Homo sapiens: one gene and its partners. The main gene of each other region encodes a partner of the protein of the gene in region 3 in a complex. Each region holds a gene or a part of one and is shown on either strand. Other genes may lie near its edges. The genes, in order: NCAPH2, SMC2, NCAPD3 and NCAPG2. A codon is read from its position in the direction of its gene.

Evidence for each region.
Region 1: the proteins of NCAPD3 (region 3) and NCAPH2 are in contact, whole or in part, in a cryo-EM structure (PDB 9F5W), measured with the Homo sapiens proteins. Residues at the interface, in NP_056076.1 of Homo sapiens: Arg589, Pro591, Met629, Glu680, Arg683, Tyr684, His690, Lys724, Glu793, Asp800, Gln803, Arg804, Arg807, Gln817, Leu820, Gln865, Leu866, Cys867, Pro868, Ala869, Arg870, Val871, Val918, Ile925, Lys929, Leu932, Gln933, His934, Ala956, Asn960; in NP_689512.2 of Homo sapiens: Trp22 (codon at 4,685), Ser68, Lys69, Glu72, Tyr75, Tyr79, Leu82, Asp83, Ser86, Ile144, Ile145, Pro146, Leu147, Leu148, Met150, Ala151, Leu152, Val153, Asp156, Glu159, Asn161, Asn162, Asn163, Pro164, Leu165, Tyr166, Ser167, Arg168, Gly170, Leu173.
Region 2: the proteins of NCAPD3 (region 3) and SMC2 are in contact, whole or in part, in a cryo-EM structure (PDB 9F5W), measured with the Homo sapiens proteins. Residues at the interface, in NP_056076.1 of Homo sapiens: Asp31, Met72, Ile80, Pro127, Gly128, Ala131, Phe135, Pro137, Asp141, Lys235, Gln237, Gln240, Leu1121, Asn1196 (codon at 3,160), Asn1200 (codon at 3,172), Pro1203 (codon at 3,181); in NP_001036015.1 of Homo sapiens: Arg112, Ala122, Asn123, Asn124, Thr125, Arg126, Leu218, Lys222, Arg225, His229, Trp940, Asn942, Ala943, Glu944, Phe948, Arg981, Met985, Arg986.
Region 4: the proteins of NCAPD3 (region 3) and NCAPG2 are in contact, whole or in part, in a cryo-EM structure (PDB 9F5W), measured with the Homo sapiens proteins. Residues at the interface, in NP_056076.1 of Homo sapiens: Glu1213 (codon at 3,211), Lys1216 (codon at 3,220), Ile1217 (codon at 3,223), Pro1218 (codon at 3,226), Leu1220 (codon at 3,232), Gln1247 (codon at 5,019), Ser1250 (codon at 5,028), Glu1251 (codon at 5,031), Tyr1254 (codon at 5,040), Lys1258 (codon at 5,052); in NP_001268861.1 of Homo sapiens: Phe291, Lys332, Pro333, Ile334, Trp336, Lys340, Ala341, Arg342, Arg347.

The regions. Positions count from the first base shown.
Region 1 is NC_000022.11:50,503,717-50,511,294, forward strand, and holds the start of NCAPH2 (condensin-2 complex subunit H2), read left to right. Parts: upstream 1-4,507; 5' UTR 4,508-4,621; coding exon 4,622-4,729; intron 4,730-7,578. Other genes in the region: LMF2 (lipase maturation factor 2), read right to left, coding at 92-188, 624-735, 843-1,011, 1,086-1,268, 1,341-1,437, 1,513-1,618, 1,687-1,821, 1,958-2,099 and 5 more. UniProt on the Homo sapiens protein: Regulatory subunit of the condensin-2 complex, a complex that seems to provide chromosomes with an additional level of organization and rigidity and in establishing mitotic chromosome architecture.
Region 2 is NC_000009.12:104,089,541-104,097,346, forward strand, and holds the start of SMC2 (structural maintenance of chromosomes protein 2), read left to right. Parts: upstream 1-4,768; 5' UTR 4,769-4,937; exon of another isoform or gene 4,938-4,946; intron 4,947-5,086; exon of another isoform or gene 5,087-5,298; intron 5,299-5,758; exon of another isoform or gene 5,759-5,783; 5' UTR 5,784-5,844; coding exon 5,845-6,012; intron 6,013-6,607; coding exon 6,608-6,757; intron 6,758-7,806. UniProt on the Homo sapiens protein: Central component of the condensin complex, a complex required for conversion of interphase chromatin into mitotic-like condense chromosomes.
Region 3 is NC_000011.10:134,157,968-134,165,038, reverse strand, and holds part of NCAPD3 (condensin-2 complex subunit D3), read left to right. Parts: intron 1-3,147; coding exon 3,148-3,258; intron 3,259-4,964; coding exon 4,965-5,147; intron 5,148-6,543; coding exon 6,544-6,710; intron 6,711-6,971; coding exon 6,972-7,071.
Region 4 is NC_000007.14:158,687,779-158,694,849, reverse strand, and holds part of NCAPG2 (condensin-2 complex subunit G2), read left to right. Parts: intron 1-1,352; coding exon 1,353-1,541; intron 1,542-1,893; coding exon 1,894-2,008; intron 2,009-4,127; coding exon 4,128-4,282; intron 4,283-4,896; coding exon 4,897-5,031; intron 5,032-7,071. UniProt on the Homo sapiens protein: Regulatory subunit of the condensin-2 complex, a complex which establishes mitotic chromosome architecture and is involved in physical rigidity of the chromatid axis.

The DNA of each region.
Region 1 (7,578 bases), on a different chromosome or scaffold from region 3:
GGAGGGAGGTTGGGGAAGTGCTTACTGGGTTTACCCCGGGAGGCTGGGGTCACCCCTGCCACCTCCCCCAGCCTGGCTGACACCCCCTTACCTGTAGTCCAAACTGCCTGAGCAGCGTCTCCAGCGTGGGGTCCCCCAGGGACACGGATGGGAAGAACTCCTCCACCCACTGGCGCCGCCACCACTGGCTGCAGCAGGACCCGATGTTCAGAAGCTGGAGGCACCCCGGGCTCCATACCCCATCGCCAGTGCCCAGCCTTACCCCTGCTCCTCAGCTCCTCACGCTCCACATCCCCCCCTGGTGCCCGGCCTTACCCCTGCACCCCGGGCTCCACACCCCACCCGGTGCCCGGCCTTACCCCTGCACCCCGGGCTCCACACCCCCCCCAGTGCCCGGCCTTACCCCTGCACCCCAGGCTCCACACCCCACCCCGGTGCCCGGCCTTACCCCTGCACCCCGGGCTCCACACCCCCCCCAGTGCCCGGCCTTACCCCTGCACCCCGGGCTCCACACCCCCCCCCGGTGCCCGGCCTTACCCCTGCACCCCGGGCTCCACACCCCCCGGTGCCCGGCCTTACCCCTGCACCCCGGGCTCCACACCCCACCCGGTGCCCAGCCTTACCCCTGCTCCCCAGGCTGGGAGAACCAGTACTTGTAGCGCTGGGCTCGGACGTAGGTGGGCGGCTGCTTGTGGAAGGGATACCTGGCCACTTGGCTCTGGACAAGGCGGATCACTGCAGCGAGAGGCATCAGCGTGGCCCCCACAGTACCCGCCCTGCCCCTCCCCTCCCCACCCCGCTCCACCCCAGCCCACTCCACACCCCCCAAGCCCGCTCCGCACCTGGCTCCTTGCCCTGCAGCAGGCGCAAGACCAGGCTTGTGAACCACGGGCTGTGCGTGTGTGGGCCCAGGGCTGCAAACCACATCTGCCAGTCCAGGCGTGGCTGGTGGGGCACCACAACCGGGGGCGGCCGGCTCAGGTTCCCAGGCTTGTACATGAACTCGATCTCCTGCCAGGCAGGCCGAGGTCAGCTGGGCCCGCTGACCTGGGCCCCACCACCCTGCCCGCCCTGGGAGGGCTCACCGTCCAGTGGTGGCCGTCGTAACTGCCCTCCAGCACCACCTCAGGCCGTCCACCAAGCCCAGTCATGCGGCGGAAGAGGCCGTAGGAGTTGGCCAGCTGTAGGTGCTCCACGGCACCAAACAGGCGGTGGGCCCCGGTCCAGAGGCGCCCGTGGGTCCCGGGCTCCACGTAGGAGTACGGCACCTGGAGACAGGTGGGAGGTTCTCAGGGCTGCCCTGCCCCCAGCCCATCCCCCAGCCCTGCAGCGCTACCCACCAGGCTAATCAGGAACAAGGCCACGGTCGCAGTGCCCACAAGGGACAGTTGGACTACAGCACTGAGCTTCCGTAGCCAGCCCCGCACCTGGGTCCACCTGTGGGCAAGGACCCAAGGTCGTCAGGCCGGCCCTGCACACCTGTGCCCCCTCCCTGCTTCCTGGGCCATGTACCTCCACAGGGCACTCAGCAGCTCCCAGACCAGGGAGGCCACACCCAGCCACACAGTGGGCAGCGTCAGTGTCTTCAGCCACTGAGAAAACTGGTGGAAGGTGAAAGCTGGTGGAGGAGGGGGGTGTGAGGACTGGTCCGCCCCTGCCCTCTGGCCCCCCCAGGTCGGCACTCACTGGTTCTGGAGTGGATGGTGCGCTGCTGCCAGTCAACCTCCAGGCCAAAGTAGTGCACAGTGCCATAGGCCAGAAGCCCGTAGACGGCTAGTTCCAGCAGCAGCGACAGGGTGGCCAGCAGGGCCTTGGGCCAGGCTGTGGGGCAGGACAGTCATGGGTCAGCAGAGGGTCCCCAGCCAGGGGGCTGGGGTGCAGCTAGAGTGGGAGTCCTGTGGGGGTGTTGGAGGGGAGAACCCCTGGGAGGGCAGGGGGCTGGACAAGTGACACGCACAGGTGGCCGTCTTCTTGCGGCTGCCGTGGCCAGGCTCAGCAGCCAGGTGCTGGTCGTCCAGCAGCGCAGTGGTAAGCACCAGCGTCATCAGGTTGAAGAAGTTGTAGTTGCCGGTGATGATAATCAGGACCTGCAGCAGCACCTGGGGGCGGCCCGCTCTCAGTGCTCCCGGAGACTGACGCCTGGCCCCGTGGCAGGCACCCACCTCCACCCTGCAGGGTGCATCCCTCTGCTACAAGGCCTTCCCAACAGCGGTTGCCAGCTGTCCCCGGGAGCCACGCTGTCCCCAACAGGGCACGCTGAGCAGCGCTGAAGGCCGAGCCCTGTCTGCCTCTCTCTGACAGCTGCGGCCCTCACCCACCTGCGAGTAGAAAGCAGCCAAGCGCAGGCGTCGAATGGGGGCGAAGAACAGGGGCGGCACAGCGATCTCAATTAGGAAGGTGGCCACCACGCTGAGCTTGTGCAGCCAGACCGGCAGGTGGTGTGCGAACCAGGCGGCGGGCGTGGGCAGGCACTGGGTCTCGTAGTGGTAGGTGAGGGCTGCAGGCGAGGGCAGGAGTCAGGGCTGGCCGAGCCCCCAGACTACCCCAGGTCCAGACCGGGCCCCTCACCAGTGAGCCCCCACCACGCAGGGCAGCGGCTGGTCAGCTTGACCACGCCTGAGGCGAACATGAGGCGGAACAGCAGCCATCGCACCAGCCAGAAGGGGAGGTCTTCGTGGGGCAGGGCCCCTGCCTGCCTGCCCTGGGGGGCCTCCTTGCGGTGGGAGGCTGGCCTCAGCGGGGCCACCAGCACGGCCAGGAAGCCAGTCTCTAGCAGCAGGGAGTCCCTATGGGGAGAGCAAATAGCACCAAGAGCCCCTCCCCACACAGCTGCTTCCCTCGGAAAGTCCTCCCAGGAAGGGCAGAGCCCTCCCCCACCCCCTACCCAGCCTCCCACAGCCCCAGGCCCAGCCGTCACTCACCACTGGAAATAAAGGAACACCTGGCCCACCTGCGGAGAGAGGGGCTGTCAGGGAGCGGGTGTGTCTGTGGACTCAGGTAAGGTAGAGGCAGGGGTGGGTGGTGGGGGTTGGAGATAGAGTGAGCTGGTCACAGGTCCCACTTGCCTGGCAGGCTGACAGGTAGGCGGCCCAAAGCAGCAAGTAGATGACAGGGTGGCGCAGTGGGCTCAGCAGCAGGGCTCCCAGGGCCACTAGTGCACCCAGCAGGCTCAGCAGCTCCAGGCCCTGGGCCGTGTCCAGCCCCAGTCTCGGCGCTTCCCACAGCAGCGTCGGGGTCTCCCACAGCTGCTGCCAGCGCCCCTTGCCCTGAGGCCGCAGCGTCCTCCTTGCAGGTAGGATGCCCTCGGGGCCATACAGGCCTGTGGGAGGGCATGTCATGGCCAGGCCCTGGACAGCCCTTGCAGACTAGACTACCTCTGAGTCAGGGCCTGCAGATCCCCCAGCCTAGGTCAGAGCATGCGGATACCTCCATCCCTAGGTCAGAGTCTGCAGTCCCTCCAGAGCCCGTCCCCCAGGTCGGGACCTGTCAAAACCCCGTCCCAGGGCTAGAGGCCTGCTCAACTACCTGAGTCAGGGCCTCCCACCCAGCAGAGCCCACTGCCCTCTTCCAGGTCTCAGCCCGATCTCCTACCTGTCCCACCAGGTCTGGGAGGAAGCCTCTCTCCCACCTCTCTCAGAGTTCTGTCCCCCACCCCAGGTCAGAGTCCAGAGCCTTACGGGAAATGGATCACCGCACACCTTCCTACCCCCACAGCGGCCTGCAGGACACGAACCGCCGCCCCCTACCCCACGCCAAGGCCTGGCCCTCACTCCCAACCCCGGACTGCGTGAGTGCCGGGCACAGAGAAAAGAGGACATAGGGTCCCGCGCCGAGGCTGGGGGTGTCCCACCCTGGGTGCCTTCACCTGGGATTTGCGTGTAGAGGGAAGCGAAAGCAAACATGAAGACGGCCGCCACGCCCTGGAGGAAGAGCTGCCGCGGGAGCCGGGAGCCCGCCATGTCCGCTACGCGGCCCGCTAGAGCAGGGCCCGCCCTCCGCGTCCGCCCGCCCGCGGCAGCCCCAGGCCCCGCCTCCTCACCGCCCCGCCCGCCCAATCCGTGGCAGCCCCAAGCCCCGCCTCCTCGGCCCGCCCGCCCGCCCGCGGCAGTCCCAGGCCCCGCCTCCTCACCGCCCCGCCCGCCCAACCCGTGGCAGCCCCAAGCCCCGCCTCCTCGGCCCGTCCGCCCGCCCGCGGCTGCCCCAGGCCCCGCCTCCTCACCGCCCCGCCCCCCCAACCCGTGGCAGCCCCCAAGCCCCGCCTCCTCGGCCCGCTCGCCCGCGGCAGCTCCAGGCCCCGCCCCACCCCGCCCCGCCCGACCCACGGCGGCCCCAAAAGCCCTCCCGTCCAAACTGGTGGCAGCCCAAAGCTCCGCCCACCCCCCCCTCCCGGAGGCTTCGACCCCGCCCCGCGACTCTTCCGGTGAGCTCCCGCTGCGCGGCGCCGGGGTTCGCCTCTCTGGCTTTTGCCCACGTTACGTCATAGACATGCGCGCGACGCCGCGCCTACGCATTTTCCTGGGCGGGAACAGCAAAATGGCGCCAGAACTAGTGGCGGGCTGAGGACGCCGTACCCCTCGGAAGGCAGCCCTGCGGTCCCTTTGCCGCCCGTTCCCTCCCGGACATGGAGGACGTGGAGGCGCGCTTCGCCCACCTCTTGCAGCCCATCCGCGACCTCACCAAGAACTGGGAGGTGGACGTGGCGGCCCAGCTGGGCGAGTATCTGGAGGAGGTAAGGGCGGCGGGGGAGTGACGCGGGGTGGGCCGGCGGGTGGGGCTGCGGGGCGGGGGCTCCGGGCCCGGGGCTGTGGGCGCCCCACCGTCTCCACGCCTATGGCTATCTGGCGCTCTGGCCGCGCAGGTCCTCGGGCTCCCTGCTTCTTTTCAAACTCCATCTCTGCCTCCCCAAATCATCCCTTGTTGGATTAGCGTGGACCTGTCATTGCAGGTTTCTACCCGTCAGCGAGCCGTGAATGATTGAGTGGGTGGTGACCAGCCGTTTCTCTAACGTAGTGGAATAGACTAGAAAGCATTATTGCTTTTATTGCAGTTATTGCGAGCATGCTTGTGTGTTTGAGAGGTCTGGATCACGATGTCAGAGGAATTTTTTATCTTGGATTTTCAAACCAATTTCAAGCTATTGCCATGCTCTATCCTGTTAGCGATTAGTGTTTCTTCCATGTTTGACAGCCCTGTCTAGACCTGTGTTAAGCTGTCTGCTCCATATTTGCGCTTCATTTTTACTCCTCAGCCCAGCTCAGTCTGGCGTCCACGACACTTAAATGTTTCTTGTCTTGATCAGCAGTGATCTCCATTCTACCAAATCCAAGGGACATAAGTCAGCATTTGTTGGACTGGCCACTCCTTTCTTTTTGAAACATGGTGGTAGGATTTTTTTTCCCTATTTCATTGCCTGATTTTTCTTTTCTATCCAGTCTCTAAGTGTTGAGTTCCTCAGGATGGGGCCTAGGTCATCTTCTGATGCATTTACCCTGAAGTGTCATTTATTTCTATGATTTTAAATATTGCCTGTATTAGGACAACTACCAGATCTGCAGCTCCATCCTAGATCTTTCCTCCAAATCTACTTTACATATCCAGCTGCTCTCTTGACATCTAGTGGGTGTCACGCAAACATCTCATTTAACATATTTAAAGTGGAACTCTTCATTTTTCTGCTTAAACCCCAGCTTTTCCCATCTCGGAAAATGACACCGCTGTTCAACCAAAAGCAAAAGCTAAATGTGGCTATAGTGAAGCCCCATGCTTAACACTCAGTTCATCCATGAATTCCATCAGTTATACCACCGGAATATCACTTGAATTCATCTGTTGTCCATTTTATTTGGTCTAGGCCACCATTGTCTCTGGCCTGGATTTGTGTAAAACCTTCCTATTTGGGTTCCCTTATCCCTGTTTTTGTCCCGTCCAATTCGTGCTCCAACCAGCAGCAAGTGTGACTCTTAAAAATTAAAATCTGGCCACAGCACTGTTTTCTGCCTAAAATCAACCCCTCAGTGGCTTTCCATTATGCCCAGAATAAAACCCAAATTTCCTTCTCTGAACCTGGCTCTGCTCTCCATTTTAGCCTCATTTTGGGCTGTTTTGTATCTTGTTCTTTTGAACCAGTCAACCTATGGCCCCTCCAAGCTTTTTCTTGGTGGAAGATCTTCATGCTTTCTGCCCCCACTTGGGAATCTTCTTTTTTGTTTTTATTTATTTATTTATATATTTTGAGACGGAGTCTCACTCTGAGACGGAAGTGCAGTGGCGCGATCTGAGCTCACTGCAAGCTCCGCCTCCTGGGTTCACATCATTCTGCCTCAGCCTCTGCAGTAGCTGGGACTACAGGCGCCCGCCTCCACGCCCAACTAATTTTTTTGTATTTTAGTAGAGACAGGGTTTCACCGTGTTAGCCAGGATGGTCTCGATCTCCTGACCTCGTGATCCGCCTGCCTTGGCCTCCCAAAGTGCTGGGATTACAGGCGTGAGCCACCGCGCCCGGCCTCTTTTTTGTTTTTAAATAAAGAGGGACTTCATATGGCAAGGAAAAGGAGAAAAAAAAAATCAGAGAGGAGGATCTTACTGTGTTGCCCAGGCTGGTCTCAAACTGCTGTGCTCAAGCAGTCCTCCTGCCTCAGCTTCTCAGGTAGCTGGGACTATAGCTGTGCACCACCACACCTGGCTGGGAATATTCTTTCAATGACTGAGTTTGTTTTCTTTTCTTTTTTTGAGATGGAGTCTTGCTCTGTTGCCCGGGCTGGAGTACAATGGCAGAATCTTGGCTCACTGCAACCTCCGACTCCCAGGTTCAAGCAATTCTCCTGCCTTGGCCTCCCGAGTAGCTGGGATTACAGGCATGCACCACCACGTCCAGTTAATTTTTGTATTTTTAGTAGAGATGGGTTTCGCCACATTGGCCAGGCTGGTCTCAAACTCCTGACCTCAGGTGATCCAGCCAGCTCTGCCTCTTTCCAAAGTGCTGGGATTACAGACGTGAGCCACCACGCCTGGCTGACTGAGTCCTTTTCATTCTTAAGGTCTTAGTGTAAATGTCAGCTGACCACCCTATCTAAAATAGTCCTCTCCATCTCAGCACCTTACACACTTTAGAATGTTTATCATAAACCATTTAAATTTTTTTTTTTTTTGAGATGGAGTCTTACTCTGTCGCCCAGGCTGGAGTGCAGTGGCATGATCTCAGCTCACTGCAAGCTCTGCCTTCTGGGTTCACGCCATTTTCCTGCCTCAGCTTCCCGAGTAGCTGGGACTACAGGCACCTGCCACCACACCCGGCTAATGTTTTGTATTTTTAGTAGAGACGGGGTTTTACCGTGTTAGCCAGGATGGTCTCGATCTCCTGACCTGGTGATCCGCCCGTGTCGGTGTCCCAAAGTGCTGGGATTACAGGCATGAGCCACCGCGCCCAGCCAAAAAAAATTTTATTTATTTATATGTTTTTTTTTTGAGATGGAGTCTCACTCTGTCACCCAGGCTGGAGTGCAGTGGTGCAATCTCAGCTTGCTGCAGCCTCCACCTTCTGGGTTCAAGCAGTTCTCCTGCCTCAGCCTCTTTTTTTTT
Region 2 (7,806 bases), on a different chromosome or scaffold from region 3:
GGTAGCTCTGGCTATTAACCAGCATGCAAGTGATAAAAGCCAAGGATAGCTGGAAAAACAGAAAGAAACGAATATAAAACAAGTAAGAATAGAACTTACTTCATGAGTAGTACATGAAAATTTTTTTTTTGAAAAAGCTCTGTCACCAGGCTGGAGTGCAGTGGCGCGATCTAGGCTCACAACAACTTGTGTCCGCCTCCTGGGTTCAAGCGATTCTCGTGCCTCAGCCTTCTGAGTAGCTGGGATTACAGGCATGCATCACCACACCCAGCTAATTTTTGTATTTTAGTAGACGGGGTTTCGCCATGTTGGAACCAGGATATTCTCCATCTCCTGACCTCCTGATCTGCCCACCTTGGCCTCCCAAAGTGCTGGGATTACAGGCATGAGCCACCGTGCCTGGCTGAAAATACTTTTTTAAGACCTAGTACCAGACTTCTTTAGAGAAGTAATTACTAGTTTTTAGGAAAAGTGACTTTGAATAGAGAATGTGAGCTCTGTAAGGAAGGCTCAGGAGGAGCAAAACAAAGATCACTGATGTTCTTCACGAAAAGTAAATGAGAAGACCTCCTCCAACATGGTCGACTGAGCTTTCCTTTATAAACTCATAGAAATAATGGATAAAATATAATTATTGTTCTATAAACCATATACAACCGTAAAAACAAAAAACAGCAAAAAGGAAATTCTCAGTGCCTGAAATAAATTTTAAAAATTGAAGAGCAGAAAGCAGAACAGATACTGCGGTAGCCCTCCAAAATTTTATACTTGGCTATATGCCTCAGGAGCCAGTAGTTGAGTTTTAATGTCCAAGCACAAGGCTGAGCTTTGATGAGGCAGGTGAGCTGGAACTAAGCCCTTATGTAAAACCTGGAGCCTTAGGAATAGCCAGCTACCGGAACTGGAAAAAGGCAATCTACTAGTTTGGGGAAGCGATAAAGAAGTTTGTTCTTTGGGGCTTTGGATAGGGTGGGAAAAAAAAAACATAAGGTACCTATGAGAAATCAAAACTGCAGCCCTGCAACAGATCTAAATATACAATATTTGCATAATTCAGGAGCCACAAACTGAGAAATTATCATTTGAAAATGCTTCAGATCTTTAAGAGCTACGGTATGCTGGCAGAAGCAAATGCATAATTGTCTAAAGGGACTCTTTTGCAACTAAGGGTGTAAGAGAGTCCCATAAACAAAACCATCCCACTGAAGAAGAGCACCACATGAGGAAATAAATCACTGAGTAAGAGTCAGTGGAGGTCGTAAACAAGAGTTAGGAACTGAAAAGCTAAAAATAACAGAACTAACAGAAAAGAAGATAAAATAAAGACATATAACTTGATTAAAAGGACAAAATAATAGAAATCATAATGAAAGAAGAGGCAGAATTCACAAAGAACCAAACAGAACATGTATTTTAGAAAACAATATTGTCACTGACATTAAAATGAATGGGTCTAACCAGTCCCACTGGGTGAATGAATATAATAACCTCCTTTTCTATTCCTCATTTTAAATTATACTTAGCTGTGTTTCTTTGCAAGTTTGTCAAACAGGTTATATTCGGTGAACCCACAGTTCAAATAATATGGCGTTAGAAATAAAATACAGTCATGCGTTGCCTAACGACGAGATACGTTCTGAGAAACGCCTCATTAGGCAATTTCATTGTTGTGCAAACATCATGAAGTATACTTAACACAAACCTACATATTATAGCCTTATGATTCTAGACTACAAACTTTTATAGCATATTACTGTACTGAATAATGTAGGTAACTATAACACAATGTTGTGTTTGTGTTTCTAAACAGAAAGGGTAGTATGTTGCACTACGATGTTACAACATCACTAAGCAACAGGAATTATCCATTATAATCTTAAGGGACCACAGTCACATAATGTAATCAGACATTGAAATATTATGTGGTGCACGAGTGTATTCAAAAAGTGCTGCCAGGCCACTGCCCTCCAGCCTGAGACAGAGTGAGACTCCTTCTCTGAAAAAATAAAAGTGCTGCTAGTCAATCCAATGTAAAAATATAAACTTCCTGTCATTATCAATTCATTTCCTTGAACCTAAAAATAATCTCTCAACAAAATGAGTCTTCCTTACTTCTGCGGTAAAGTCCTTTCTTTTTTTCTTGTCCTTTGTTCCAAGGAGAAAGGATTCACTCGGGTCCCTGTGAGAAGAGCTTCTTTAGCACTCTAAAATTAGAAAAGTATACCCAGGAGAGAGCAGGTTCCTTCCAGTTCCCTAGGAGAGTAGAGCACCAAATATTTCTCCTAGGTCTTGCTTTGTGGCTGTATGTGTGTCCTTGCTGGTACTGATGATGCCTTCCATATAAGGACTCAGACTCCACTAGCTGCCAGATTTCTGCTTGAAACACTGCCCGCTAGCGTTGAAGCTTTCAAACGATTTTAATCCATGGTGATGAAGCAAGAACAGTGTTTTCTGTACACTGCATCTACCCTATACTCTCTGTTTCTACCCCTCACATCTCCAAATTAGGGGGCTTCACTGGCTTTGTGCCTTGGTTTTTTCCACTCACCTGTGTGATCTCAGGAGGCAGAGTTTCAAGTTAGTCATCAGTGATTTCCTCAAGTCCATTTGTCTTATATTTAGCAGCAATTCCTTAGTGCTTCTGGCACGCAATAAGACTAAAACTGAGAGATCTCCACCTTTATAAGCATTTTTCATTTTAATCAATGGTCTTAATGGGAGTAGTTAGATCTGCACATTCTTCTAACCACCCAGGAGTCCTTATCCAACAACAGTGCACTTGTGTATGTTTTCATCCATGTGACGTAAGTGTATCAGCTAGTTGTTAAAGTGCAAAGACTAACAGTCTGTCTTAACACATATTTCCATACCAAAAAATCACTTTATTTCACAACGTGACAAAGTCCACATTAGGATTTGTTGGCAAATTAAAATTCTTTACTCACAAAATGATAAAAGGAAGGAGACACAGCTCAAAGTTAATGTGTAAGAGTTAACAGAATCAATACAAGTGAATAGCTGTGGAGCCCAGGGGATGCAGGAATCAAGGCAGACAAAGATATCTGTTGAATTAAATTAATGTTAGGTCACTACCCATGGTTGACATCACAGAAGTGGATAAGCATACCAGAGTAAACAAAGGAATCCTTTCTTAAACAAAAAACCCATACAACTTATTTTACTCCCTTATCGAGAAATATTTTCAAAATATAAGCCCATTCCTGGTAGGTTAAGACCAATTCAGATGACTGCATTGCCATTCCAGGGCCAAGAAAGCAACTTTAAAAACATGACCTACGCTATGGTCTAAATGTGTCCCTCAAAATGCACATTTTGAAATCCTAACTCCCGAACTGACGGTTTTAGCAAGTGGCATCTTGGGAAGTGAGGAATGGGATTAAGGTCCTTATAAAATAGGCCCAAGCGAGGGCCTCTGCCTCTCCACCATGCGAGGACAGAGCCAGAAGGTGCTATCCACTAAAGAGAAAGCACCCCTCCCTAGACACACCTTATTCTGTGACATTCCAGCCTTCAGAAATGTGAAGAATAAACTTCTGTGGTTCATAAACTACCCAGTCTAGGATATTTTGTTATGGAAGCCCAAAAGGATCAAGCCATTCCAAAATAGCATTGTTGCCCACACCATCTTTTTGAACCTCACTTAGGGTAACACCATACCCATTCGGAGTTAAGCCCTTCCTAACTCTTAAGTATCAACGTGCTTGGAAACGTGAGCAATCCTGACACGTTTTTTCTTCCTAAAGAACAATACATACTAATAATAGGATCGGCTAATAATACTAGATTCTATGCATGAAGCCTAGTATTTAAAAGCATGCAATCTGGAGCTAGACCGCCTGGGAACAAATCCCAGCTTACTAGACAAGCTGTTTAACCTTTTACTTGGTCTCATTTAACTCATTTGTAAAACGAGGGCAATTTCTGATTTCATAGGGTTGCTACGTGGATTTTAAAAAGCCCCTTGCAATATAGCCTAATATTCAGAACTCAATAACATGAACTGTCTTAAAAGGTTTCCAGAAAAAATCCCCAACAGGTTAGGTCGGCTTATCATTACAACGCTTTCCGGTATAAGGGAGATGAATAGCTATTTAGCACCACACAATTTCTCCTCTGGGCTCGGAACAGCTCTCGGTAGACTACGATCCCTTTCCGACGTGGAAACTTCAGATAAAAACGCTCCCCGAGGTCCGAGGCCAGTACGGGGCGGAGCCAGGACGCGGGCCAGAGTCCCCCGAAGGACGGTGCCTCTCTGGCCCCAAGAAGTACAGCTTTTATTTTGCAGCAATCTGAGCCAACCCGAGAAGATTCTGAAGCTTCCAAAACAGAACCGACGAGAACACTCATAGAATGCCTCTCCACTTCCTAACTGTCGCTTTGAGGAGAGAAAAGTAAGCCACAGCCAGCACCGCAGACTGGAGAAGGCGGAGTCTGCAGTGTGCCTAACGCGAACTAGAGGGACCGAGGCGGGGCGGGGCTGGCGAAGCGCGAGGACCCGGGGCCGAGGTGTGGGGCTGACCATAGAGTGCCGGACGCCGGTGTGAACATACACTATCTGCTCCTGTAGTGCCCAGGCCCCTGCCGGGGAGTCCCCGGAGCTACCATTATCGAGACTCTCATTCTATTGCCCTGCGGCTTTAATCCTTCGAGTGTAGGGGAAAAATTGAACCCTAAAGACAGGCAGCTCCTAGGCACCAGCACAGGAAATAAGCAATGGAGGTGGGGTCCTTTGCTCGCGCCGAAATTCAAAGGAATAAATAGTTCCGGCGCGGGTGTTGAGAGCGGTGTGGCAGGTGTTGTAGCCGCTATGGTGAAGTTCGCTTTGTAGCGGCCCCGGCTAGAGAGTTGTTCTGTTCCCTGCCTTTGTGACCCGGAGGAGCTTTTGGGGTGCGTCAAGCCCCTGGCCTGAGGCAGCGGTGAGGCGTGTGCGTGAGCACGGCCGGTTGGGCCGGGCCAGACTTCCTGGCGGGAGGCGGGAGGCGGGAGGCGGGGCGCGGGGCGCGGGGGCTGTAGGGAGGGGGACCAGTGGCAGAGGGACCTTAGGTGATCCTTAGAAATAAAGGCTAGCTTCTGTTCGACCTTGGAGTAGGGCGAAGAGGTGTAGACAGGCCTGGAGAAGCGAGGTAAAAGCCTGAGTAAAAGCAAGAAGTTGGAGAATATGAGATACATCTCATCTCTAGTAAATACTTAAATGACTTCCCCTCCTCCCGGAGTCAAGCACAATTCGGGGATGCAATGACGGACGTAGGTGAAGACACTGCGGGAACTTACAGACAAGTAATGACCGTCTAATATCAGCTTTAAGTACCATGAAGGAAAAAGAAAGCCGAGTGAAGGATTGTGGAGAGGTGACATAGGGAGGTCAGGGAGGACTCCAGTAAGGTGACATTTGAGCAAAGACGTGAGTGCAGTAGAGAGTAAGCTATGTCAGTATCAGAGAAAAGCACATTATAGGCAAAGATAATGGGATATGTAATAATCCATAGTCTTTGTTTAGGTAGAGTATGATAAAAGTAGAAGGCAAGCCTGGAAAAACGGGTAGAAGAAATAGTTAAGACTTCCCAGTTGAATGGTTTAATTTCCAGATAGTGGCTAACTCTGGTATATTTTTGAGTAGATGAACGATGTCTTTACATCAGACAAGATAGTTTGTCAAGTGGCTGTTTTATTTCTATCACCCTATCGTTGCTGTTTTTGCCTCGTGTTCATTATGATTCCAGGTTTACATTCCACTTAGGTGGTGGTATTTCTGTTTCGTACAGAACTGGTTTGTGGCCTGTTTGATTCCTGTCAGAGGTTTGCTGACCCAAGACAGTATCGAAAATGCATATTAAGTCAATTATTCTAGAGGGATTCAAGTCCTATGCTCAGAGGACCGAAGTCAATGGTTTTGACCCCCTCTTCAATGCTATCACTGGCTTAAATGGTAGTGGGAAATCCAACATATTGGACTCCATCTGCTTTTTGCTGGGCATCTCCAACCTGTCTCAGGTAAAGTGTAAACTTTCTGATTTATTTGAATTTAAGTTGGCAGGAGAATCCTCACTGAACTTTGGAGACGTCCCGATATTCTCTTCATTTGTGTTTTTATACTTTTTGTAAATTACACCTCACTGCAACCTTTTAAGGAAAGTAATATTACTCCTTTAGATGAGAAAATAGAAACTTAGAGATGTTTAGAAGTAACAGTGCCTCAAAACTCAGGCATTCTGACTGTAAAGCAGTCTCATTCCAGAGTATTTTCAACCCTGTGTAATGATGCCTTTTCAAATCCTATTAATGGATTGAATGACTAGTGAAAATCTTTGGGACAGTATTTCCTTATATCTTGCAAAGTAACTTTTTATTAAAAAATGAATAGGAAACAATTCAATTCAGGGTTGAAAAGGTTCTGTAGAGAAAAGTGTCCATTGCAGGTTGTTGCCTATTTTCCTTGTTTTTCTTGCCAGAGGATGCAGCTGCCTAACCTTGTCTACTTAATGGACACTACGTTGGTGGGTTTTCCAACAGCAAGGGACCCATTTTTAGTGCTGCTTTGTACGGTAGGGAGTTTTGTAATTGTTACACTTTTCATATTTTATTTTAGGTTCGGGCTTCTAATTTACAAGATTTAGTTTACAAAAATGGGCAGGCTGGTATTACCAAAGCCTCTGTGTCAATCACTTTTGATAATTCTGACAAAAAGCAAAGTCCTTTAGGATTTGAGGTTCATGATGAAATCACAGTAACAAGGCAGGTGAGTGGCAATTAAACCTTTGGGTATCTTAAGACCTTTTATGTCTGATGTGGTTTTTGGCCCTATGCCTTTGCAAAACGTGCTAGAGAAAGTTCATGAGCAAAATTGGTGCCTTAAATTCTGACTAGATTCCTTAATGTCTTCCTTATATTAAAATCTTGATCATGCACATTCTATCACTAAGAGGATTGAAAGACAGCTGAAAAGTTGTTCATCCAGTATAAGCACTCAGCTATGCTGAAATCTTAAACCATATTTGAATCTTCTTTGGTTGTTCTTGAACACCTGTGTACTTGAGATCTTTCAATCTTCTGAGATAACCCATTCTGTTTTTGGACAGGTCTTATTAGAAAGTTAACAGCTATAAGTTTTGTCAGAGTCTGCTGTCTTCAAATTTTATTCATTAATCCTAGTCCTCTTGAGAGCACCAAGAGCAAATCTAACTTATTCCCTACTTCAGTGTTTAAGTGATGTGCAAGTATATGTGTTTTAGTTCTAAGTGAAATCTTGCCAGGTCTTTCACTTGATGTTTGTTCCTAGTTCCTTCACTTGCCTGATTATACCAAGTATGCTCCAGTTTCCCTCCCTGCTCCTGCATTCATCTATCTTTCTTTCTTTTAATGGCACCTTAGATTGGGTGTACCAAAATTGGTCTAGTTGGAGTTATTCTTTCATTTTAGATATTCTACTTTTATTTTTCCCAGTAGAGCATTGGGGTGTTCATAATACATTGTGGATTCATATTAGATTTACTTGAAACCACTCAATTTTTTTTTAGGTGTGTTATTAATATAGTCAGGCAGTGTTTTCAGCTTGTCAAGGTTTTTTTTTTTTTTTTTTTTTTTCCTGAGACGGAGTCTCGCTCTGTTACCCAGGCTGGTCTCCATCTCCCGGGTTCAAGAGATTCTTCTGCCTCAGCCTCCTGAGTAGCTGGGACTACAGGTGCCCACCACCACACCCGGCTAATTTTTTTTTGTTTTTTGTATTTTTAGTAGAGACGGGATTTCGCTATGTTGGCCAGGGTGGTCTCAATCTCCTGACCTCATGAT
Region 3 (7,071 bases):
CCTCTAAGCTCATCTCACAAGTGGGTGTGCAGCTTCCCTAAGTTTGTGTCACAAGTGAGCATGCCACTCCCCTAAGCTTATGTCACAAGTGAGTGTGCCCCTCCCCCTAAGCTCATCTCACAAGTGAGTGTGCAGCTCCCCCTAAGCTCATGTCACAAGTGAGTATGTAGCTCCCTCAAGCTCATGTCACACGTGAGTGTTCAGCTCCCCTAAGGTCATTTCATGAGTGTGAAGTTCCCCTAAGTTCATTTCACGAGTGTGCAGCTCCCCCAAGCTCATGTCACAAGTGAGTGTGAAGCTCCCTAAACTCATGTCGCAAGTGAGTGTACAGCTCCCCTAAGCTTATTTTACAAGTGAGTGTGCAGCTCCCCCAAGCTCATGTCACAAGTGATTATGCGGCTCCCTCAAGCTCATGTCACAAGTGAGTGTGCAGCTCCCCTAAGCTCATGTCACAAGTGAGTGTGCAGCTCCCCTAAGCTCATTTCACAAGTGAGTGTCCCACTCTTCTCACCATCTACTGGCTTCCGTGTTCTCCCTGGAATCCTGGTGCCATGCTCTGGTGCTGACTTCTTTCTTACTGATGGCTTTAACTCTTGCCAGATGGTGACAATTCTCAAACCTGTTTCCCACTCCAGCATTTCTCATGAGCCTGAGCTCAGGTCCCCCTGCTGCCAGGACGTGCTCCGGGTGTCTCTGACTTACTCTGTCAAAACTCCCTCAGTCATCTCTTCTTTCTGCTCTTCATCTCCTCTTTCTCCCACAGTTTATGGTGCTCTTGCAGACTGGAGTCTGGTGTGTCAGGCTGAGGCTTTTGTTGGCAGGAAGTGTAGAATTTGGATCTGAATGACTGGGGCAGAGCTTGGCTGCCACAGGCCTCTGCAGGCCTGTGTTTTCCTCCTAGCCTGGATTGCCAATGTGTATTTCCCACCTGGCCTCTGGAGGCTTTTGACTCCAAGGATATAGACTCTGATCATATCTTGCCACAAGATCCTGCCTGTTTTCTCTTACCAATCTATCTCTCTAGTTCTGACCTTATTTAAGCTTATCCCATTTCCATGGTTTCCTTACCACCCTTTCTGTTTCTGGTTTCTTTCTGTCACAGGCCATGTACCACCTTGCTGCCAGAGCAGTCTTTCTTTCTTTTTCTTTTTTTTTTTTTTTTTTTTTGAGACAGAATCTCACTGCGTCGCCCAGGCTGGAGTGCAGTGGCGCGATCTCAGCTCACTGCAAGCTCCGCCTCCCAGGTTCACGCCATTCTCCTGCCTCAGCCTCCCGAGTAGCTGGGACTACAGGCCCCTGCCACTGTGCCTGGCTAACTTTTTTTTTTTTTTTTTTTTTGAGACACAGTATCACACTGTTGCCCAGGCTGGAGTGCAGTGGTACGATCTCTGCTCAGTGCAAGCTCTGCCCCCCTGGGTTCATGCCATTCTCCTGCCTCAGCCTCCCTAGTAGCTGGGACTACAGGCACCAGCCACCACGGCCGGCTAGTTTTTTTGTATTTTTAGTAGAGATGGGGTTTCACAGTGTTTGCCAGGATGGTCTCAATCTCCTGATCTCGTGATCTGCCCGCCTCGGCCTTCCAAAGTGCTGGGATTACAGGCATGAGCCACCACACCCAGCCCAGCAGTCTTTCTTAAGTACAAATTTGATCATTTTATTATATCTGAAACAGACTAAAGGCAGGTTGACTGTGAGGGGTGGCAGGAAGCTTTTGGGTGATAGATGGTGAGTGGTCTGTAGTGCTGGTTATTCCATATAGACTTTTGTCAAAGCTCATGGAAGTGTTTGTTTAAAATGGGTAAATTTATTACATATGTTATACTTCACTAGTGAAATCTTTAAAAACTATGCTGGTGGCTTCCTGTCATCTTCTGAATAAACCCTGATTCTTCTTTTTCAAGGTAAACAAGAACTTCTGGTGTGCCTTCCACCTTTCCCATACCTCCCTCCATCCTCACCTCTAACCTCTCCACTTCAAATTGCCATCTGCACCTCAGTTGCGAGCTGCCCCCTACTCGTGTGCTCTTGCCTCTGGGTCTAAAGTCTGCAGCGCCCTCACCCACCCATCCTCCCTTCTCCACACATCCTCAGGATCATCCATCAGATGGCCATGCACTCCTTAGGCATCCCATCTCCATACCTAAATTCCCTAACACCCTGCCACTTAACACCTCTTCCCTTGAGACACACACTTTCTAGAAGTGGCTGGAGGGCAGGGATGCTTAGCTTCATTTTGCATCCTCAGAGGGTTAGCTCTTTGCCTGGACAGAGAAGGTGCTTGATAATACTTGTCAAGTGAATGCATGGAAGCCACTTCTTAAGACTATTCCTGAACATAACATCTGCTCACATCTGGGTTTATTAAATTGCTTATTTCTCTACTTGTTGTCCTTCTGTTTCAGGAACTCTGATAAGACTTTTTAGAAATGAGTAGTTTACAAGGAAGAAACATACACTAGTGACTTTAAATGAGAAGGAAAAGAGTAGTTTCAGCTTCAGGAGGATAAATCTTGCATATGTGGGCTACTATAGTGCTTTTTTTTTAATTTAAAGAGATTCACTGGAGAATATTTGTGGTTAGTGATCATTCAAGGTAAAGTGTGAAGACTTGGTCAAATCAGGTACTATATATATAAATTCATAGTATTTTGTAGATGTGTACACAGAGAGAGAGACAGAGCTGGCTGTCTTCATGCTTAGCCATTTTTAGACCATTGTCCCTTCACCAGCAGGAATACGAAGTGTCCCTCTGGGTAGCCAGAACGAGCTGACTTCTGTTCCAAGGGGAGGGTGTTGAATTGAGGACTGAAGGTGGAGCAAGAGCCAAGGTCCCTCAGGGTCTTCTGTGGAGATTTGGGGCTTTTGTCAAAAGCTACTCAACATGTTTCTAATTCTTTTTCCCCATTTAGAATATATGAGTAGTATTTGTCCCCACCCTATCTTACAAAGCCTTCAGAGTGTTTTGAGGTAATGCTTACAAAGTCTCCCAGAGAAAAGCAGAGGTCCTCTACATCCAGTATCATAATGAAAAGCAAAAATAAACTTACATAGTGTGGTAGGGTGGCTCTACTCAAAGAACTAGATCAAGGAGAGGCCTGTCTTTCAGAAGTTCATACATCTAAAACATGTCTTTGTTTGTGTTACCAGGTTCAGAAGAGGAATTTCATAGAAAATATTATTCCAATTATCATCTCCCTGAAGACTGTGCTGGAGAAAAATAAGATCCCAGCTTTGCGGGAACTCATGCACTATCTCAGGGTAAGGGTGGAGCCTGTGCTTTTGTGGTTGTTGTCCTACCAGTTCATTACTTAGGATCTTCTGCCAGTTATGACAGTGCAGGCAATCCGTGAATGATTAGAACCCCAAATTCTGCAAACCCAACATTACCTTGGTAACTGCTGTGGAGCTAGGGGTTGGCTGTGGGTTCCACCAAAGCCGCTCTTTCCCTTGGATGTGCAGCCAGGGCCGTGAAGAGCCGGCCCACTGTGCCAAGCACGTCTTCCCTTAATGGAGTTCAAGTCCATCTGGAAAACTTTCCCAGCTGGGGTCAAGAACACAGTCATCTTCGTTCATGCTGCTTGGGGGTAAGGTGAAAGTGAGTCTTCGGGTTTGATTTCAGGGTGCTTACCTTTTGCACTGACTCAGATTCACAAGGTCAGGAAATAACTGCCCTGCAGGAGCTGCCTTCGGAGCTGCCATCACCAGGCTGAATTCTTTGTCAAGCAAGGGGACCATGAGGAGCTCAGTCGGAGCAAACCCAGGATGTGTTGACTTGCAGGGCGGACCTAAGTGGGGCCTCAGACCTTTCTTGCAAAATCTTTTACTAAGAAATAAATGCAACATAGTTTTTCTTTAATTCAGCAGTTATAGCTCTGTTCACATTATGTGTTTTTCTTCCTCAAAAAAATGCTACAATTTTTTTTCCAATAAAGGCCTCAACAAAAATTACATTGAATATAAATTTTCAAATAGCTTTTTATACTAGGAAGCCAAGGTAGGAAAGATAGTCTCATTGTATGATAAAAATAAAAACTTCCAAATATTCTTGTATTTATTGCCTGACTTTAGACCCTAGAAAGGAAAAAAAAAAACAAAAACAGAGCTTTGATCCTACATAGACTACTTAAACACTTAAGAAAAATAAGCCTTCCTCCTGCTTGTGAGCACACACACAGGATGGCCACACGTTGCTTGTTGTCAGTAGCTTGAGGGAGTCTCTTCATTGGCCTGTGGAACCCACTCCTAGTGGCAGCTGGAAAAGTGCATGGATTCCTTCTCTTTGTTGAGACTTCCCTCCCAGTTGGAACTGCAGTGTCTTTTTCTCCCTATTACTGTTAGGTGGAATGATTCTTTCTCTTAGCAAAGTGGTCTTGCCCCTGGCACCCCTCTTTAAGACCTAAGAATGTTTTTCCCTAGGTATGAGAAAAGGTTTTCTGTAAAATCTTCAGAAGAAGACACAAAGATGGGATTTGAGCCTTAGTTGGAATCCCCTGAGAGCCAATGGGGAGGCTAATGTAGACAGATGAGCAGCTTTTAGATCCATGCATCCTGGGACTTGCTCCAGAGGCTGTGTCTGAGCATGTCTTTCTCCCATTGGGAACCTGGGAGAGATTGCCCATTAACTGCCACATAGCCAGGATGCTTCCTAAGAGAGAGAACTGTTAGTTACTCACATATTTTTCTGCTTGTGTGGCCAGTGGTGTTTGCTCCAAATATACCATTGTACCTGTTAGTTACTGGAATGGAAATCATCTGCTTTCAGTAATGTCAGTCCTATTGTTCCTATGATTTATCAAGCAACATGACTTGGGGGGCTTTTTTCTTTCTTAACTTTTATTTTGCGTTCAGGGGTACACGTGCAGGATGTGCAGGTTTGTTACACAGGCGAAGGTGTGTCGTGGGGGTTTAGGGCTTTACGTTTTTATTCAAGAAAACATGAAAGGATGCTCCTGGCTCTGTTTCAGGAGGTGATGCAGGATTACCGAGATGAGCTCAAGGACTTCTTTGCAGTTGACAAACAGCTGGCATCAGAGCTTGAGTATGACATGAAGAAGTACCAGGAACAGCTGGTCCAGGAGCAGGAGCTAGCAAAACATGCAGATGTGGCCGGGACGGCTGGAGGTGCTGAGGTGGCACCTGTGGCACAGGTAGGTGTGGGGCCCACTGCACTGTGACCAGACAGTCCAGTCTGCTGTCTGCTACCAGTCTGTCGTTTGTCTGGCACCTCTCAAGATCTCCGTCATCAGAGGTTAGTCAGCCCGAAGGCCTCGAGAGTGCTGCTTGTTGGCCACTCCCTCGTGCCTTTCTGTCTGTGATGGATTTACTGTGCTCCAGACCTCCCTTCCATGAGGACGTGGTGCAGGAAGCGAGCTGGCAGCAGCAGTAGCTGGTGACTATAGATCCTAGGTCTGCCAGGGTGTGTCAGTGTGTCCGCATCTTCCCCCAGCACTCCCTCTTTAGAGCAGACCGGCACACGGCCATTTCTAGGAGTAGCTGTTGCTCACCGTCCTGAGGAATGCAGGCAGATCTCTTGTAGGAAAGACCAATGAGCACAAAGTAGCATACTCCTTTTTCTCTTCTGTCATGCCACAGCATCTACAAGTGGCAGCTTTCTCATAGTATTCTGTTTCTGAAAAGGAAATTCAACTTACCCAGGGTTGATATGGCTTCAAAGTACATTACTTATGGACTTGCTCATAGTACGTGAAGATTCTATTCCAATAAAGTGTTAAAATGGAGAAAGGGAATGGCTTGTACACTGTTGGTAGGGATGGAAAGTAGAACAGCCACTATGGAGAACAGTATAGAGGTTCCAAAAAACTAAAAGTAGAGGTACCATATGAGGCAGCAGCCTCGCTGCTGACTGTATAGTCAAAAGAAAGGAAATCAGGATGTCGAAGACATACCTGCACTCCCATGTTTATTGCAGCACTGTTCACAATAGCAAAATTTGGAAACAAATGTCCATCAGTGGATGAATGGTAAAGAAAATGGGGTGCATATACAGTGGAGTACTTTTCATCTATAAAAAGTGAAATCTTGTCATCTGTTGCAACATGGATGAACTTGGAAGACATTATATTAAGTGAAATAAGCCAAACACAGAAAGACAAAGATTGTATGTTCTCATTCATATATGTGAGCCAAAAAGGTTGATCTCACGGAGTTAGAGAGTGGATTTTTGGTGATTACCAGAGGCTGGGAAGGGGTGGGAGAAGGGGGATGAAGAGAAGTTGGTTAATGGGTACCAAAATACAGTTAGATAGAAGAAATAAGTTCTAGTATTCAGTACAGTGGAGATATTACAGTTTAACAATTTACTGTATATTTCAAAGTACATAGAAGAATTGGAATGTTCCCAACACAAAGAAAAGATACTCACGTTTGAGGTGATGGAGATGCCAATTACCCTGATTTGATCATTACGTTGTCCACATGTATCAAAATCTCATATGGACCCCCAACCATGTACAACTATCATATATCCGTTTTTGAAAACTTAAAAAGTATTAGAATGTACATACTCTTTATCTTCTCTACCAGGTTGCCCTGTGTTTAGAAACAGTGCCAGTTCCTGCTGGCCAAGAAAACCCTGCCATGTCACCTGCCGTGAGCCAGCCCTGCACACCCAGGGCAAGTGCTGGCCATGTAGCAGTATCATCTCCTACACCTGAAACAGGGCCATTGCAGAGGTTGCTGCCCAAAGCCAGGTAAAGAGCCCCTGGAGGCCACATCAGGGCTGGTTCTCTGTGGCGATGTTCTCAGAGGCGTCCCTGCCATTCCCAAGCGTGGGCAGGAAAGTCATTGTCATTGTCTGGCCTGCCACCCCGCTCCACACTGTGCCCTGGGAGGTTTGAATGAGGGTGGTGAGGGATGCGCCGGTGAGGAGGCACGCGGGGACACAGTGCAGCACTGTCACCTCTGCAGTGGTCTGCAGTGAGAAAGTCAGCGGCTGTGGCTGTTCTCCACAGGCCCATGTCCCTGAGCACCATTGCAATCCTGAATTCTGTCAAGAAAGCCGTGGAGTCAAAGAGCAGGCATCGGAGTCGGAGCTTAGGAGTGCTGCCTTTC
Region 4 (7,071 bases), on a different chromosome or scaffold from region 3:
GTAGATAGAAGTGAACAAGCGGAGGTGGAAAAAGCTAGATGAAAAATGAAGGAGCGCTAAGAAGAGGAGAAAACAAACACCAGGGCAGGAGAGGAGCTAGGAGAGCAGGAAGAGAGGATGGGGGGATGGAGGGCTTATGAGGTTATCTTTACTCTAGTTCCTCCATCTTACTGTGTTTTTTATGACCCCGACAGTTTTGAAGAGTGCAAGTGGCTCTTTTGTGGTATAGCCTTCAATTTGCATCTGTTGAGGATCTGATTAAATTTTAGTGTGCATTTTGGCAGGAACTGCTTAGCAGTGTTAGGTCCTCGGCGCTGTCAAGACAGGAAGCGCATGGCATGGTCTGTCCGTCCCTGTGTGGGTAGGTGTCCGCCAGGTCTCTTCTGGGAACCTGCCTCTGTGGGAAAGTGGTGACACTGTAATGTCCTGCTGCTCACCAGGCTTCCACCCACTTGTTTCAGCATCTCCCGATAATTCCTGCCAGAGTCCATAATTATTGTGATGGCTATAAAACAGTGATTTTCTAACCCTGTATTGCATCTATGTTTATTCACTGACATTCTAGAGCATGCAGGTGCTATTAATTAATGATTTGATATTTATTATCAGTATGCTGTCATTGATTTTTTCTTTTTAGAGACGGGCTCTTGCTATGTTGCCCAGGCTGGAGTGTAATGGTACAATCACAGCTCACTGCAGCCCTCTCTCCCAGAGTGGTTGGCTTGGCCTCGTTTATGCTTATTTCATTCAACTGGTTATAATTAATCACTGTCACTGTTTTGGTGCTCACATTGTTCCAAATTTGGCTATAGGGAGTCCCTTTAATTGGATTCTATGCCCTTTTGATGAGGGCCGCTATTTGCTTCATCAAAGAGTACGTGAGGTCATCTCAGATAAGAGGAAATGGGTTTAGAGGGTTGTTGGAGGAGATCTGAAATCATCTTGTTGGCTGGTGGGAGAGAATGATATTGAGGAATGAGTAGAAGGTGGTGTTGAGGGCCCACTTGGGGCTGGAATCTGTGGCCACAGTATTATTATTGCCATTGTTATTGAACTTTAGCCTACTTTTGTAATCTAATTCTAGGTATGGAGATGGTGGACATTTGGGTCCCTTTTAGGGAGGGTTTTGCTAAGTGGGTGAAATTTTAAAAACTCTGAAGATTAGGATGCTAGGAAAGAATAGGTGGAGAATCCCTGTGCTTCTTCCCTTTTAGGAATGGATTTTGAATACTGCAACCAAACTCTTGAACTTGTAATGAAGTTAACACTTAACTTTTCTTTTGATGACATTATGAAAAGGATATGATTAATTTTTTGTATTTGAAATGTGACACTTGCTATTTATGTTACAGAAAGAGGCCTCTGATCCTTTCAGCCTAAATGAATTACTAGATGAATTATCAAGGAAACAGAAAGAAGAATTATGGCAAAGGCTGAAGAATTTATTGACAGATGTGTTGTTAGAAAGCCCAGTGGATGGGTGGCAGGTAGTGGAAGCCCAGGGTGAAGACAATATGGAAACCGAACATGGCTCAAAAATGGTAGTATTTGTTTTTCAAAAATAAGAAACGTTTTTCTCTTTTTTTTGTCAAAAAATAACTTCACTGTGTATCATTGAATTTTACATTAAGACAGATTTTGAAGTTAGAAGTCAAGAATTTTAGAAGTTTAGTCTGTTGTAGTTTTATTCACTTTTCAACCCTACTGTTATTAATCTAATACTAAATATTGCTGTTCTTTTAGGATGATTTACTTTTATTCAACTTTAATTCTTTTTAGAATAAGCTAGAATTGTGGCTTGATTTTTAGAAAATTTGTAACTGAAATTTCTGCTAAAAACTGATTTTAAGTTGATGATTTTAATTCACTCATGCTTTGATTTTTCATTTATAGAGAAAAAGCATAGAAATAATTTATGCAATTACATCTGTGATTCTTGCTTCTGTGTCTGTAATAAATGAAAGTGAGAACTACGAAGCCCTACTGGAATGTGTTATTATATTAAATGGTGAGTTGATTTTGTTATAAATGGCATATTTAGAAGTGGGTGTTGAAATACTTGTTTTTGTTTCTGTTTTTATTTATTCATTCATTTATTTATTTTTTTTGAGACGGAGTTTCGCTCTTGTTGCCTAGGCAGGAGTGCAATGGCGCGATCTCAGCTCACCGCAACCTCCGCCTCCCGGGTTCAAGCGATTCTCTTGCCTCAGCCTCCCTAGTAGCTGGGATTACAGGCATTCACCACCACGCCCGCCTAATTTTGTATTTTTAGTAGAGACAGGGTTTCTCCATGTTGGTCAGGCTAGTCTCAAACTCCTGACCTCAGGTGATCCACCCGTCTCAGCCTCCCACGTGGCTGGCCTGAAATGATACTTTGTAAAAGGAAACTAGTTGTTTTCATGAGCATTGTTGAATTTAGTAGCAGAAGTTGTATAAAGGTATAGCTTTGCAGTCAAGTTCTTTTTCTTCAGCTAGAATAGGAGCATACTTACATAAGAGTTGTCCTGAATACTTATTTATTTTATATTTATCATTTTTTTTTAGAGACAGAATCTCGCCCTGTTGCCTATGCTGAAGTGCAGTGACATGAACCCAGCTCACTGTAGCCCTGACCTCCTGGCCTCTAGCTATCCTCTCACCTCAGCCTCCTTAGTAGCTGGGACCATGGCCCATGCTTTTTGTTTTGTTTTGTTTTGTTTTGTTTTTTGGTAGAGACAGGATCTAACTGTGTTGCCCAGGCTGGTCTCAAACTCCTGTGCTCAAGTGATCCTCCCACCTTGCCCTGGCAAAGTGCTGGGATTACAGGCATGAGCCATTGTGTCTGGCCTAATTAGTTTAATTTAAGCTCCATTCAGATGTTATAGATGGTGAGATGGGCAGTACTCAGCAACTAACTGCTATTTACAGGTTTTTCAGGGAAGTCTGACTTACTGGACCAATGATCAAGAACTTGTTGAGAAGAAAATACCTGATTATGTGATTACCATTGCTAGATAGTGTCAACTTAACTAAGAATTTGTGACACTGAATTTTTTCTTAAAGTATGTTGTGAACGTGATCTGAGGAGTGATTATTGACTCCTAGGGGAGTTTTACTGTATTGAAATTTAAATGATGGTACTTTTCAAGTTTTAACAAAACTGTAAAACTAGTTATTAATTTAGTCTAAGTTAATGAAAATATTTGATTATGAAATATATAAAATTTTAGTTACAAAAGATGTAAAAATATCTTAATGATTTTTAAGAAAACTTTTCACATACCCTCATCCTTCACTGTGCGAGTGTAATTAGTTTGTTGTGACAAAGTATCTCATCAAGCTTCTTATTCTTAGCATCACTTGGATTTATGTATGTTTTATAGTACATTGTTTTATTCTGAATTCTTGAGTTGAAATACAGTGTCTTATTAAAAAGTCACCCCAATCATAATGAAAATAGCTTCCAAATGCTTTGTGAATTTTACTATCAGTTTATTTGTATGGTCTGCAAATAACTAGTGAAATGATTAGTGCTAACACTGTAGTTGCTATCAACTTCCCAGTTAATTCAGGAATGTTATATTAGTGTAATGACATTCAGATACCTACAGATTATAATTATGAGCATTAGTATCATTAATCTAATTATTGAGCTTTTCTGTTAATAAAAGCACTGCAGTTTTTGTATTCATTATGGTAATTGCTTTGACTGTTTTTCACCTCTGAGCCAAAATTTGAGGCTGGCACATTGAGGGATAGTAGTGGATTATTGATTGGTCAGTAGACCTGTCTTGGCTCTGGTGTTAACAGAGATACCATTGGTGTTGTTACACTGAGGTTTGGTTAGCCTCAGCATCTGCCTTTCTAAAATTGGTGATACGATTTCTCTGAGACTTCCAGTTCCAAAAATCTCTTTTCTATTATGTCTGTTGAGGGTCTTTTTATAACAATCGTCAAACAGTTTTTTAATTAACATTATTTGCATTTTATAACTAATGTATATAAATCTTTGGCAAGTTAAACATAACTAATATTATTTGCTTAGCAAAGCTTTAAATAATATATAAAGTCATGATACTCTAAACTGTTGACTCTGAAGTAATAAGAATTTGCCTTACTAATTGGAAAATTACTGTGCTGTATTTTAGGTATTTTATATGCATTACCTGAGTCTGAACGAAAACTACAGAGTTCTATTCAGGATTTGTGTGTTACCTGGTGGGAGAAAGGCCTGCCTGCCAAGGAAGACACAGGAAAGACAGCCTTTGTCATGTTACTAAGGAGGAGTCTGGAGACTAAGACAGTATGCTCACTTTTTATTTTTTTAAAGACAGGGTCTCTCTCTATTGCCCAGATGGAGTGCAGTGGCATGATCATAGCTCACTGCAGCCTCAAACTCCTGGGCTCGAGCAATCCTCCTGCCTCAGCCTCTCAAGTAGCTGAGACTTCAGGAGTGCACCACCTAGCTAGGACTTTATTTTTAAACGTCTTCCTAACATTCTAAACCTGCGCTATTCAACGTAGTAGCCACTTGCCACAGAAAGCTGTTTAAATTTAAAGTTAAAAATAATGAAAAATTCAGTTCCTCAGTTGCATTAGTCACATTTTAGTAGCTCTACAGTGAAATGTGGCTAATGTCTACTGCACTAGACAGTTCAGATGTATAAAATCTTCATCATCGAGGAAGTTCTTAAACTTGCTGGATTTTTAATTATTTTCCTTATGTTTTAAAAAAATGTTCTGTAGAGCTATAGGGGGCATTTGCAAATTTTAAAATCTGTTTTTATTTGTCGTTATTTTTTAATCTTTGATGAATCAACTAGAATTACCATTATTTATGATATAAAATATACTTGATTTGAAATATGACTTTACTGTTCATTGAAAAAGGTATCACATTTTTTGTGTCATTCCTAGGGTGCAGACGTATGTCGGCTTTGGCGTATCCATCAAGCTTTATATTGCTTTGATTATGATTTGGAGGAAAGTGGAGAAATTAAAGATATGTTACTTGAGTGCTTCATAAATATTAATTATATCAAGAAAGAAGAGGTAAATAGGTATTTGTTTTTTGATCTGTTTGTGAGCTGCTTCTTAATAGATGTTTCTCCTGTGTTCACATGGTTCCTGTCTGCACCATGCTCGGTGTTGCTTAGCTACCAGGAGCTATTTACTGCACATGATTTTTACTGCATGGCAGTACTAGAGAAGACATTTTACAAGTCCTTGCTTATTTCATCATTAAATTGGATGGTAACAGGTGGCTGTGTGTTACCTAGGGGAACCGTAATTACATTTTAAATTAAGAATGATTAAAAATAAGGTTGAGAAAGCACTTCTCTATGAATGAGATCTGGCCTTCTGCCCTAATTCCATTTTAATTGCCATGTACTCAAAACTGTCATCCCATAATATCCTCCCTTTCTTTTTTCTACCCATCCTGTAAATCCAGAGAGGCTTCTGGCCTGTTGCTGCACTGCCCGTCCTGGGGTCAACTCCCATATGAGGCTACTGAGCACCTGAAATGGGACCCAACTGAACTGAGATTAGCCATAAGTATAAAATACACATGGATTTGAAGATTTAGTGGGAAAGAAATGAACATAAAATAGCTCATTAATAATTTTTGTTCTATACTTAATATAATAGACAATATTTTTATTGTCTGTTATATTAAATATTGCTTTACATAAAATATATTATTAAAATTAATCTTCTTTACTTTTGTTAACATGACTACTAAAGAATTGAGAATTACAGAGAGGCTCGCATAGTTCTTCTGTGTTAGGGGCCTTCTGCAGTTGTTTACTGAGCGTCGACTACATGCTCAGGCAGTGCCAGGGGAGACTAGAACAAGCTTTTGCATTTGGATGCTCATGGCTCAGCAGGCACATCTCTGAGGCAGAAGGAGGAAGTCATCCCTCCTCCCTGAAGGAGGTGGAGAAGGGCTTCAGAGGAAGAGGAGGACCAGCTCTGAGGTACAGAATAAGTTTCCTCCAGGTGTCACAGCTGCTCAGCGGCAGAGACAGAACTGGACCCCGGCGAGCCATCTGCAGTCTGCTAGACAAAGGGCCATGTGATTAGGACTGAGACCTTTGGCTCCCAGGGTCTTTGTTCACTTTATAGGTGGTGCCCTTGGTCAGGCCTTTCAGCCTCAGAGTTTTGTTCTGTAAAATAGGAGCAACAGTTACTGTTTCACAGGATTGTTGTTAGGAACAGATGAGGTAATATGTATCAAACCGCAGCCCAGGCGCTGGTGGATAAGAACCCCTGGGGAGGGCTGCCCTTTGCCATCCTTGCTGTGTCAGCACCATCGTTATTACAAAGATGTTGGACACAGCCTGTGCCCCACACATGTCTCCAGGATTGTTCTGAAATGGGAGAGTGAAGAAATTAATGATGGATTCAAACAATAAACTATTTTATGTTGACTTATACATAAGGAGTTGATGAATCGTACTTGTTAACTTATATATGTGTGCAGATATATAACAGACATAAATGTATGTATGTGTTATAACCTCTACCCTTTTTAAAAAATTGATGTCTCCTTTGAATTTAAGATATCTAAATGTAGTTTCCTAATCAATCATTAATTTGGTCAGGTCAGTTTCCAGTCATTCTGGGTAAACCATAAACATCTTGTACTGTACTAACAGATTACTTCCAGTGAATATTACTGTTTTTTTTTTTAACTTGCCTGTTGTGAGCATGGTTACCCTGCATTTGAATCAAAATGTATTGCATTTCTGTAGGATTCCAGTTCTGTGCAGTGGTGTGCTGGTAAGAGATGAAGGTGCTATTCACTGAGAGAGTTCTAGATAGATGCATCTTATGCACTCTATAGAGTATGAAGATTGTATTCATTCTTCTTAGGTTCAGATACATAATCTAGTAGCATGCATATAAATTATCATCACATGATGTATTTATGACTTGAAGACTGTGTATTTGGAAATTCTAGCTTGACAAACACTTAGCCTTTTAACTATATGAGTCCTCAGTTTTCTCATCTATAAATGAGAAGGTGAAATGAACTGGGATATTCAACTCCATTCCCACCCACCTATGCTAGATTTAAAGCTTTCTTTC